Linked DNA regions of Homo sapiens: region 1 is linked to region 2. Evidence: fine-mapped expression QTL. A gene starts in region 2. The other region holds a variant in brackets. All regions are shown on one strand. Distances are from middle to middle. Region 1 overlaps FCSK (fucose kinase). Region 2 holds the start of FCSK (fucose kinase).

Region 1 (5,308 bases), 28 kb after region 2:
AGAGAGTGCCTGGGACAGGACTGTGACCTGGTGGACAGGGGCCTAGATGTAGCCTCTGTTCCTCCTGGACATAGGAAGGTCCCAAGCTTAGTATCCCACGTGGCCTTTACAAATCCTATGGCTGGCCTTCTCATTCCACAAGGGCCCTGGAAAGGGTTGACAGCCAGCCTTGGCATATGGCTGGGAGTCCCTTAGCAAGGCCAACCCTGAAGAGGCCCTTTGAGGCATTCCCTATGGCTTAGAGTTGTAGACTTACACTCAACCCTCATGTGAGCGTGGGAGTGAGGGTGGCGGTCCCTTGCCAAGTTGGTAGCAGTGACCCAGTGATTCACTGCCATCCCAGGCCTTAACTAGCAAAACTACGGAGCGTGCCAAGTGACCTGGTGCCTGTGGGAAGTGGGTTCTCAGGACTGGCATTCTTGGAATAAATTCACTCTGTCCTTGCAGGTGGTCCTCGTAAAGTCACTTTTGCTCCTGCTGGGAGCAGTTCCCACTTCTCTACACCATGGGGAACTGGCCCTGGGGTGATCCAGCTTGTGGTGCTGGGGGCCCAAGAGGGGCACGAGGGTCTGGGACTGGATGGGGGCTCCTGCCATCATGTGGGCCCCGGACACAGCTGTGTGCTGCACTGTGTGTGGGAGCAGGCTGAGGTCTTGGGTTTTACCTTCCTATTTCAGTGCAACTGATAGACCTGCCCTGCCCCATAGCATCTGGCCCTCCCTGGTAACAGCACACTGGCATCTCTCCAAGGAGTAGCTTTATTCAGGGATCATAAACATCACAGCCTCTCCTCAAAGTCAAGCCTAACTGCTAGGTCCCCAGATGTACCCAAGTTGTCTAGGACTGGCAGGGGTAGCTTGTTTGCTGTAGTGTTTGAGGGCAAGAGACTGACCATCCATGCAGAAAGCTGGCCTGGGCTGCTCGCTGCCTGCCGTGGCTTTCCCACCTCATTAGGAGCCCGCTTCTCTCGGTGGGGAGATGCTGCCCCCAGAGCATCACCTGGCCAGGTCTGAGGGCAGAGCATGGAGTGGGTCCAGACTTTGTTTCTCTGCTGCCAGCCGTAGAAAGGTCTGGGCTGTCAGATCTCCCCCAAGCCAGACAGCCTCGCTCAGCTCCTTGGCTGGGGCCCCTTAGGGAACAGGCCTGCAAGTGTGATGAGCCAGGTGTGCTCATCCAGGCAGCTACAGGCGCAGCCTCTTGATATCTTCACTGCGGAAGTCTATCCGCAGGGCCAGCACCTGGCGCACTTCAGCAGGGGTGAGGCGCCACGTCAATGGGCCGGAATTGGGTCCCCAGTAATCGAGGATCTCGGTCACCTGTGGGGAAGGACATAGAGACCAGTCAGCAAGGTGGGGTTATTCTGAAAGAGGGCTCTGGCCTCTACCAGGGGCAGAGCAGGGGCACCCGGGAAGGGGAAGGTGTCCTATAGAGCTGGCTGCTGGCAGACATGGTTTAGAGGGAAGTGGCGGGGATCCATCTTTGCCTCTTTCAGTCACCCCTCCCTGGCTGGGCCAAGGGTGCCCCACCTACCCGCTCCAGATTGAGGATGGTGGCCATCTGGGAGAGCCGGGCAAACTTGTCTCGGATGGTCCAGGTGGTCACCGTGGTAAGGTAGGCAATGAGCGACCTCAGCTCCTTGTCAAACTGCAGACCACCCAGCTGCAGGAGAACCCAAGCCCAGTCACTACTTAGGCCTGGCCAAGCAGAACTGGCCTCCAGTTGCCCCCAGAGCTGGGTGGCAAGGCCCGCCAGGCCTCAGGTGGTGCCCTGTGGTTTGTTTGCTCTACGGCTTCAGAAGCCAGAGCAGGACTGGACCCAGACATGCAGGGCCTGTGGGCAGCAGACAGAGGGGATGCAAGTCCTGGGGGTGGTGGCATGACATGTCTTCCTCAGAGGAGAAACGAGAGCCGCAGACCCATGACCCCTTTACCTTACCCGGTTAAAGGTGGATTTCAGCACCACTTTCTCCAACTCGACGGCAACAAGGCTAGTCATGAGGCCGGTTAGGCTGTCGTAGATGACCGGGGACAGGCTGGCCTGCACACAGAGGGTTGACATCAGCCGAGCCCCACCTAACTCCTCTGCCTCTATGCTGGAGTCTTAGGTGGTGAGGATAGTAGCGTGAGGCCACGGGGGAGTTTCTACAGGTGAGGGTTGGAAGGGCTTTCAGGGTCCCCAGAAGGAATGTGATGAGACCCTGCAGGCTGCTGGTTTGGGCTGACGTGGGTAATTCCCTAAGTGGATCCCTAGGGCCCCTGCTCACCTTGAACTCTGCCATTTGCTGCTCCAGGTTAAGGATGAACTGTTGTACCCAAGGGTCGTTGGCCTCATAGTCATTGAATTCTTCCTGTTGTCAGGAAGCAGGGCTGGTCACCATGGGCCTCATAAGAAGTACCATTCATTGCCACCCACCTCTATCCCTCTAAGAAAATAATGTAAAACATTCTTCCTTCCCTGTGCCTTCTGACTCATCTAGTTTAAAACCAGCTCAGACACCCAGGCTGGCAGAAACTGACCAGCAAACAGCCCAGGGCTGTAGCAGTGGCCCACATAACATGGTAAAGTTCCTGGCATTTTATTCCTTCTTGGATCTCTTGTTCTACAGGAATGAAATCACTACGCCAGGAGGAAAAAAACGCTTCTAAGTCTATCATAGGCGGGGCAAAAAGAGCTCCAATAAGGGAATAAGTTAGGTCAAGGCAAACTCCATGTCTTTCTGAGCCCTTCTGACTAGGGACAAACTGTT[T/C]CCTGGGAGGAACCTAGTCTTCATGGGTCAGGGTGGGGGAAGTGGGCCTGGGAAGCATGGAAGGTCTAGTCTGTTCAGATGGCTCTGCTCCCTCTAGCTGGGGCTAGGGATGAGGGGTCATCGGGGCTTGATGGCTGCCTGTGGCCAGGCTAACCTCCTCGATGTTGTGGGAGACGGAGAAAAAGCTGTTGATCCAAGGCTGCACCTGTGGCTTGATGGCTGTGCTGTTGAGCTCCGTCAGCCCTTCCTGCACAAGGACAAGGTGGAGACATGTGACACAGAAGGCACGACTCATCCCTTCCCTCTCTCTTCTCCCCATCCCTTCCCTCTATCCTCTCCCCATCCCTTTCCTCTCCTCTCCCCATCCCTTCCTTCTCTCCTCTCCCCATTTCTTCCTTCTCTCCTCTCCCCACCCCTTCCCTCTCCTCTCCCTACCCCTTCCCTCTCCTCTCCCCACCCCTTCCCTCTCCTCTCCCCACTCCTTCCCTCTCTTCTCCCCACCCCATCCCTCTTTTCTCCCTACCCCATCCCTCTCTCCTCTCCCCACCACATCCCTCTCTCGTCTCCCCACCCCTTCCCTCTCTCCTCTCCCCACCCCTTCCCTCTCTCCTCTCCCCACCCCATCCCTCTCATCTCCCCACCCCTTCCCTCTCTCCTCTCCCCACCGCATCCCCTTCTCCTCTCCCCATCCCTTCCTTCTCTCCTCTCCCCACCCCATCCTCCTCTCCTCTCCCCATCCCTTCCCTCTCTCCTCTCCCCATCCCTTGACTGCAGGGCGTTCTTCCAGCCCTGAGGCTTTCTGCAGGCCCTGTTGGAGGTTATAACAGAGCTAGTGCTAATGAAAGGAGGAGCCAGGAACATGCCCCTTTCCAGATCTCAGCTGATTCAGGTCCAGGGTAACGATGAGGCCTTGAGACTGTTCTGATAAACTCTCACAAGAGATTTCAGAATGCTCAATGTTAGGCAGCACCTGCGGCTAGGTCAGAACAACCATGTGGCTCCACTTCCTCTGAGCATCTTCTGAGAGCTCTTGTCATTGTGGGGCCAAGTGCAAAGTCTAGAGCACCAGATGTTGGCTTGTCAGTGTGACAACTTCACTGCTGAGAAACCAACAGGGCCTTTAGTCTCAAGGGACCTGCACAACTCCAGGCTCCAGGGCTTGCGTGCTGCTCCCTCACCCGTCCTCCTGGCTTCCTTGCACACGATGAGCCAGCTAACAATCTTCTCAGAGCAACACACAGGCACAGGATTCAGTCAGCAGTTGAACCTGGGGCTTACCTGCAAGAGGTCTCGGAATTTGTTGGACACGGCGGCCAAGTCAGAAAGGCAGCTGTCAAACTTGGCCTGGGCCTGCTCCCCTCCAATGCCCTGGCTGAAGAGCTTGGTGCAGTCACTCTAGGGGAGAACACTGCTGTAAGACCACCGAGCACGCGTGGGCCATGGGAGTGTGAGGAGCCACCAGCCAGTTCTACTCCTCCAGCCAGCTATGGCCTGTCAAGAGCCCGGATGGGTTTCAGAAAACCTGGATTCTATCCTGGTGGTTATCCACTTGGCTCCCACTTCCCCCTCTGTAATATGGGGGTACCAATGTCGGGGAAGTGAGTAAGAAACAGAAATACCAGAAAGTTTTTCCTGTCTTTAGAGTCAGACATTCCTAGGTTCAAGTCCTGGCTCAGTCATGTATTAGTTGAGTGACCTTGGGCAAATGATTTAAAGTTTCTGAGCTTCAATTTTCCTGTCTATAAAATGGGAACACCAATTCCTGCTCCTCATGTATGAGATGAAGCACAACGTGCCTAGCTCAATGCCTGGCACAGGAGACACTAGCTATTATTGCTATAGTTCCTCCTTTCCCCCCCTTTTATATTTATTTACTTCTTCTTAAATTTTATTTAAATTTACCAAAAAACCACAAAAGTCAGTTTCTGCTTCTTAAATATTTTGGTATGGCTACCAAAGGGGATGGTCAAGATCATAGCTAAGGTTTAAGGGCGTACTGTATACCTGGCTTTGTTCTAAGCATTTCACTTTTATTAAAGTACCAGGCTGGGCGAGGTGGCTCATGCGGGTAATTCTAGCACTTTGGGAGGCCAAGGTGCAAGGACCACTTGCGGCCAGAGTTTAAGAACAGCAGGGAAACATAGTGAGAAGCCGTCTCCACAGAAAATTAAAGAATTAGCTGGATGTAGTGGTGCGCCCCTGCATCCCTAGCTACTCAGGAGGCTGAGGCGAGAGGATCCCTTGAGCCCAAGGGTTCAAGGTTGCAGAGAGCTATGACTGCCACTGCACTCCAGCCCGGGCAGCAGAGTGAGAACAAAGTACCTATTCTACTTAAAAACAAAACAAAATGAAAACCAAAAAACCCCCACAACTATTGTAAGTTACTTTGACCTTCATAAAAAAAAGTATCTCCTTTATGAAATAGGTAAAATTATTATCCCCATTGTACAGATGAGAAAACTGAGGCACAGAAGTTAATAATTTATTCAAAGCCATGGCAATAAGTCAGGAAAGGCTGAGCATGGTGGCTCACTATTGTAATCCTAGGACTTTGTGAGGCCA
Region 2 (5,367 bases):
TAGCTGGGCGTGGTGGCACATGCTTGTAATCCCAGCTACTCAGGAGGCTGAGGCAAGAGAATCACTTGAACCTGGGAGGCGGAGGTTGCAGTGAGCCGAGATCACACCACTGTACTCCAGCCTGGGCAACAGAGTGAGACTCTGTCTCACAACAACAATAACAAAAAAATTGGCCAGGCTCATCTTGAATTCCTGACCCCGAGTTTTCTGCCTGCCTTGGCCTCCCAGAGTGCTGGGATTACAGGCATGAGCCACTTCGTCCGGCCCTAATTTATATATATTTTAGAGACGGGGTCTTGCTATGTTGCCCAGGCTGGTCTCAAACTCCCAAGCTCAAGCCATCCTCCCACCTTGGCCTCCCAAAGTGTTGGGATTACAGGCGTGAGCACCTGTGCCCAGCTTTAGGCTCCTTATTAACAACAGATTTGGAAAGTACATTCTTGTAAGAAAAATTCAAACAATACAGATAAAGCTCAAGTTCTCCCCGCTTGTCCCCATGCTTAGCAGTCTCTCCCTAGCATGCGTTCGCTTCCAGCCCTGTTCCTGTGTATCCACACACTATCTGTCCATAAACATTATTTTTTATTTGAGGGGCTTCCCATACATATTGCTCTACAACTTGCTGCTTTTCCCTTAACATGATGTCCTGAACATCACTCCCTACTGAACATATAGAGCATCTGTCTTGCATGGATGTGCCTAGTTTAGTTTTCCAGTTGTAAACCAAAAAGCACCAGATACTGGTCTCAATCAATTTACAAGTTTATTTTGCCAAAGTTAAGAATGTGTGCACCTGGGAGACAGGTCTGTACCTTTCTCCAAAGATGATTTTGAGGGCTTCAATATTTAAAGGGGAAAGGTCAGATATTGGGGAAAGAGGAATTTTTTTTTTTTTTTTAGACAGGGCCTCACTGTGTTGCCCAGGCTGGAGTGCAGTGGTGCAATCTCAGCTCACTGCAACCTCTGCCTCCCGGGTTCAAGCGATTCTCCTTCCTCAGCCTCCCAAGCTGCTGGGACTACAGGTGCGCGCCACCACGCTCAGCTAATTTTTGTATTTTTAGTAGACGGGGTTTCACCATATTGGCCAGGCTGGTCTTCAACTCCCGACCTCATGATCCACCCGCCTCGGCCTCACCAAAGGGCTGGGACTACAGGTGCGAGCCACCGTGCCTGGCCTGAAAGAGGAAATTTTTAAAAGGCATGGGTAGGTAAGAGGCAAATGGCTGCATTCTTCTGAGTCTTTGATAAGCCTTTCACATGTTAGAGGGGGATAGAGGACTAGTCACTTATGCATTCATCTAGCTCAGTGAATATGCATTTTTACATAAGAAAAAATAAACATAGGGCAGAGGAAGCAATGAGATATGCATTTGTCTCAGGTGAGCTGAGAGATGACTTTCAGTGCTGTCAAAGCCCAGCACCTGTGAAGATAAGCTATAAATTTACATTGTCACTGAAATTCCACACAACTGTTTTAGGGTACAGATTTGGGGGCACACAAGGAATTTCCTAGTGGGCAAGTTGTGAGGGCCAGGCCATATCTAGCTTTTTTATCTTTGTAGTTATCTTGTTTAAGAATAAAATGGGAGGTAGGTTTCCCTGATGCAGTTCTCAGCTTGACTTTTCCCTTTGACTTAGTGACTTTGGGGTCCTGAGATTTATTTTCCTTTCACATAGTAACCTAGAGAGAGACACTCAGAGTATTTCCAATTGTCATCTATGACAATCAATGCTGCCATTCACAACTTTCCCAAAAGGTCCGCAGATCCCCTCCCCATTACGGAGTTGGAAAGTTTCTTCCCAAAGGATCCACGTGATGAAACCAGCGCAAACCTTTCCAACTGCAAATCGAATGGCAGCTGCTTCCGCTTGGGCAAAGCGTGATTTTTTTTTTTCCTCCATCAGTGGATTTTTCTCCAGAGGAAAGCGGAAGCTCCTGGTGCCGTCCAGAAGGTGTTAAAAAAAAAAAAAAAAAAAAACCCAAACGAGAAAACAAACAAAAAAGCTACACATTAACCTATTAACCTGGATCCCGGAGTCCCAGAAAACGGGCCTCTGTCTTTAAGGCGCTTCGGTCCTCTGGGAGTTGTAGTTTCGTGGGTCCTGGAGCGGCCCCCTTCCCATCTCCCTTCTGGATTGCAGCCCCGCTGCCCTTCAGGAAAGCGCTGCCCCGGCCACCCACGCTGGCCTATGCGGTGGCTCCGACCGTGTTTTTTGCCGGACGGGGGCTCGGCCTTGGGGGGGCGCGGAGGTGAAACTACACTTCCCGGAGTGCACCGCGAGGGTCGCGCAGCCTCGCGTTAAAGAGCCCGCTCCGCCGAGCGCCGGGCGACGGCAGGTACGTCAGTCCGCGAGGGTCGCCGCAGCGCCCCTTGCGCCCCTTGCGCCCCTTGCGCCCCCTCAGCTTTCCGGTGCACCCTCCCTGACTGGGAGCACCGAGTCGACCCGCGGGCCGCCCGGGTCCTGACAGGGAAGAGTCCCCGGGAGCTCTGCGGTGCCCCGGGAGCCCACAGGTGTTTCTACGCTCCCGCGTCCATTTGGCCTGGGTCTTCCAAGGGGAGCCCCGCGACCCGGCTGGTGCGGCCGGACCTGCTGGCAGCTGGGACCGGGAGGGATGCGGGCCTCAGAGGATCCTCACCCTGAGGCAGGTGGGGCCCTGGATGCCGGCGCTGCTCTGATTTTACTTTGAGGCCGCTTCTCCTCTCTCAGTTTACCCGGCCAGGGCTCAGTATTATGCACAAATCTCAATGATGTGCTCTTGGGTAATTTACAAAACGATTTTACTCCCAAGTAACTTCTTTCGGTCTGTTATTTAGAAGGCAGCAAGTCAGAGTCCTCCGTGAGCCTTTTTTTCCTCTTTAAAGTTCTAAAATGTGCAGTCCCTGACCCACCTGTCTTCAAAAGGTTCATATGAAGAGTTCTTAGTACTTTATTCTATCTCTGGCTCCCCAACCCTATCCCAGTCTTGGACAGCGTGGGGCTGAGGACACTAAAAAATATTTCAACTTGATCTCAGCAGATGAGGCTGTATTGAAAGTGGGTAGAGGCTGGGCGCCAAGGCTCATGCCTGTAATCCCAGCTACTTGGGAGGCTGAGGCGAGGGAATCGCTTGAACTCAGGAGATGGAGGTTGCAGTGAGCCAAGATCACGCCACTGCACTCCACCCTGGGCGACAGAGCGAGACTACGTCTCAAAAACAAAACAAAACAAACCAACAACAACAACAACAAAAGAACCTTAGGGCCTTAGGGCACACTTTCTCAGGACCTCTTGAGATTGTGTAACTCCAGCAAACTATTAATTAAAAAAAAAAAAAAGGCCGGGCGAGGTGGCTCACGCCTGTAATCCCAGCACTGTGGGAGGCGGAAGCAGGTAGATCACCTATGGTCAGGAGTTTGAGACCAGCGTGGCCAACATGGCAAAACCCCCTCTCTACTAATAATACAAAAATTAGCTGGGCGTGGTGGTGCACGTCTGTAATCCCAGCTACTTGGGAGGCTGAGGCAGGAGAATCACTTTAACCTGGGAGGCGGAGATTGCAGTGAGCCGAGATCGCGCCATTGCACTCCAGCCTGACGACAGAGGGAGACTGTCTCAAAAAAAAAAAAAGCCAGGCATGGTGGCTTACACCTGTAATCCCAACACTTAGGAAGGCCAAGGCGGGAGGATTACTTGAGTCCGGGAGTTGTAGGTCAGCCTGGGCAACAAAGGGAGGCCCCATCTCAACAAAAAATAAAAAACTAGCAGGACTCATGCATAGTCCCAGCTACTTGGGAGGCTGGGATGGGAGGATCGCTGGAGCCCGGGAGTTTGAGGCTGCAGTGAGCTGTGATCACATCACTGCGTTCCGCCCTCTGGTGACAGAGCCGGACCCTGTTTCTCAAAAACAAAACAAAACAAAACAAAAGCCTAGCCTGCCTGTGCTATTAAAGCAATGGCAAAAGCCAAAATTACTTTTGCACCAACCTAATAGCTATGTTTCTGCTTTTTAAACTACAGTTTTCTTGTCTAGAGCTTCAGTGAGATAAGAACCAATTCTTAGGACTGTTGGGTGGGTCATATGAAGTGACACTGATGTGCCTTTGCCATAGTGCCTGAAAAAGCACTCCATATGTATTAGCTACTTGTATCATTTTACCTTTTTTGTTAATCTCTCAGGGGATGTCCCTCAGCCTTGCTTGATTCCCGAGGCCTTCCCTGATTTTTTTCTTCTTCAGGACAGTCTTTAACTCAGAGAATGTTTGAGAGCTTCCAGTCCTTCCTCCTTCAGGGACAGGTTAAACTCTCCTGCTTCCTTGCCTGGCTGGAAGGATTATCATTCATTGAGCCACTGGTGTGTGCCACATACTTTACATTGTATTTCATGCTGAAAACAGTCCTGGGAGGTTGATGTCTTTGGCCTTAAATTTCAGATTAGGAAACTGAGGCTTAGAGAGGTTAAGTAACTGCTGGGCATGGTGGCTCACGCCTGTAATCCCAGCACTTTGGGAGGCCGAGGCAGGCGGATCCCAAGGTCAGGAGTTTGAGACCAGCCTGGCCAGCATGGTGAAACCCCGTCTCTACTAAAAATACAAAAAATTATCCAGGCATGGTGGTGCGCGCCTGTAGTCCCAGTTACTCGGGAGGCTGAGGCAGGAGAATGGCTTGAACCTGGGAGGCGGAGGTTGCAGTGAGCCAAGATTGCGCCACTGCACTCCAGCCTGGGTGACAGAGCGAGACTCCATCTTAAAAAAAAAAATAGATTAAGTAACTTGCTCAGGATCCTACAGGAAGCAGGAAGAGGTAGAGATGGGGACAGAGCCTTTTGGGACTGATACGCAACCCAGGACTGTTCCTCTGCCCCTGTCATTAGTAAGGGATACTCTCCCCACTCTGGCCATGACCTGTCACCTGCCCATGTCTCTCTATCACTATGCTGAGATGAAGACTGGGCTCAGAACTTCTGGGCCATTGGACTCTCTGGGGCATTTCTTTTTTTTCTTGAGACAGAGTCGCTCTGTTGCCCAGGCTAGAGTGCAGTGGCGTGATCTTGGCTCACTGCAGCCTCCGTCTCCTGGGTTCAAGTGATTCTCCTGCCTCAGCCTCCTGAGTAGCTGGGACTACAAGCGCGCATCACTACACCCGGCTAATTTTTGTACTTTTAAAAGAGATGGGGTTTTGGCATGTTGGCCAGGCTGGCCTTGAACTCCTGAACTCAAGTGATCTGCCCACTTTGGCCTCCCGAAGTGCTGGGATTCCGGATGTGAGCTACCACATCTGGCCATTTCAAGGGTTTCTTTCTTTCTTTCTTTCTTTCTTTTTTCCTCAGACAGGGTCTGGCTTTGTTACCCAGGGTGGAATGTATTGGTGCCAGTTTACTGCAACCTC

Evidence for each region.
Region 1: its variant is fine-mapped to the expression of FCSK in lung (TOPMed, PIP 0.91).

Annotation. Positions count from the first base shown.
Region 1 is chr16:70,479,829-70,485,136 of GRCh38, forward strand. It overlaps FCSK (fucose kinase), which reads left to right. Exons shown (of 24, transcript NM_145059.3): 24 at 1-446. It overlaps COG4 (component of oligomeric golgi complex 4), which reads right to left. Exons shown (of 19, transcript NM_015386.3): 14 at 4,025-4,141; 15 at 2,901-2,993; 16 at 2,264-2,347; 17 at 1,936-2,037; 18 at 1,531-1,659; 19 at 743-1,316. The coding sequence ends at 1,182. Among named protein-coding and RNA genes, the nearest start is that of FCSK, 28 kb to the left of the region's middle. The variant T/C (reference allele first, on the strand shown) is at 2,747.
Region 2 is chr16:70,452,293-70,457,659 of GRCh38, forward strand. It overlaps FCSK (fucose kinase), which reads left to right and starts at 2,303. Exons shown (of 24, transcript NM_145059.3): 1 at 2,303-2,338. It overlaps LOC124903708 (a long non-coding RNA gene), which reads right to left and starts at 2,244. Exons shown (of 2, transcript XR_007065104.1): 1 at 2,026-2,244; 2 at 745-1,175.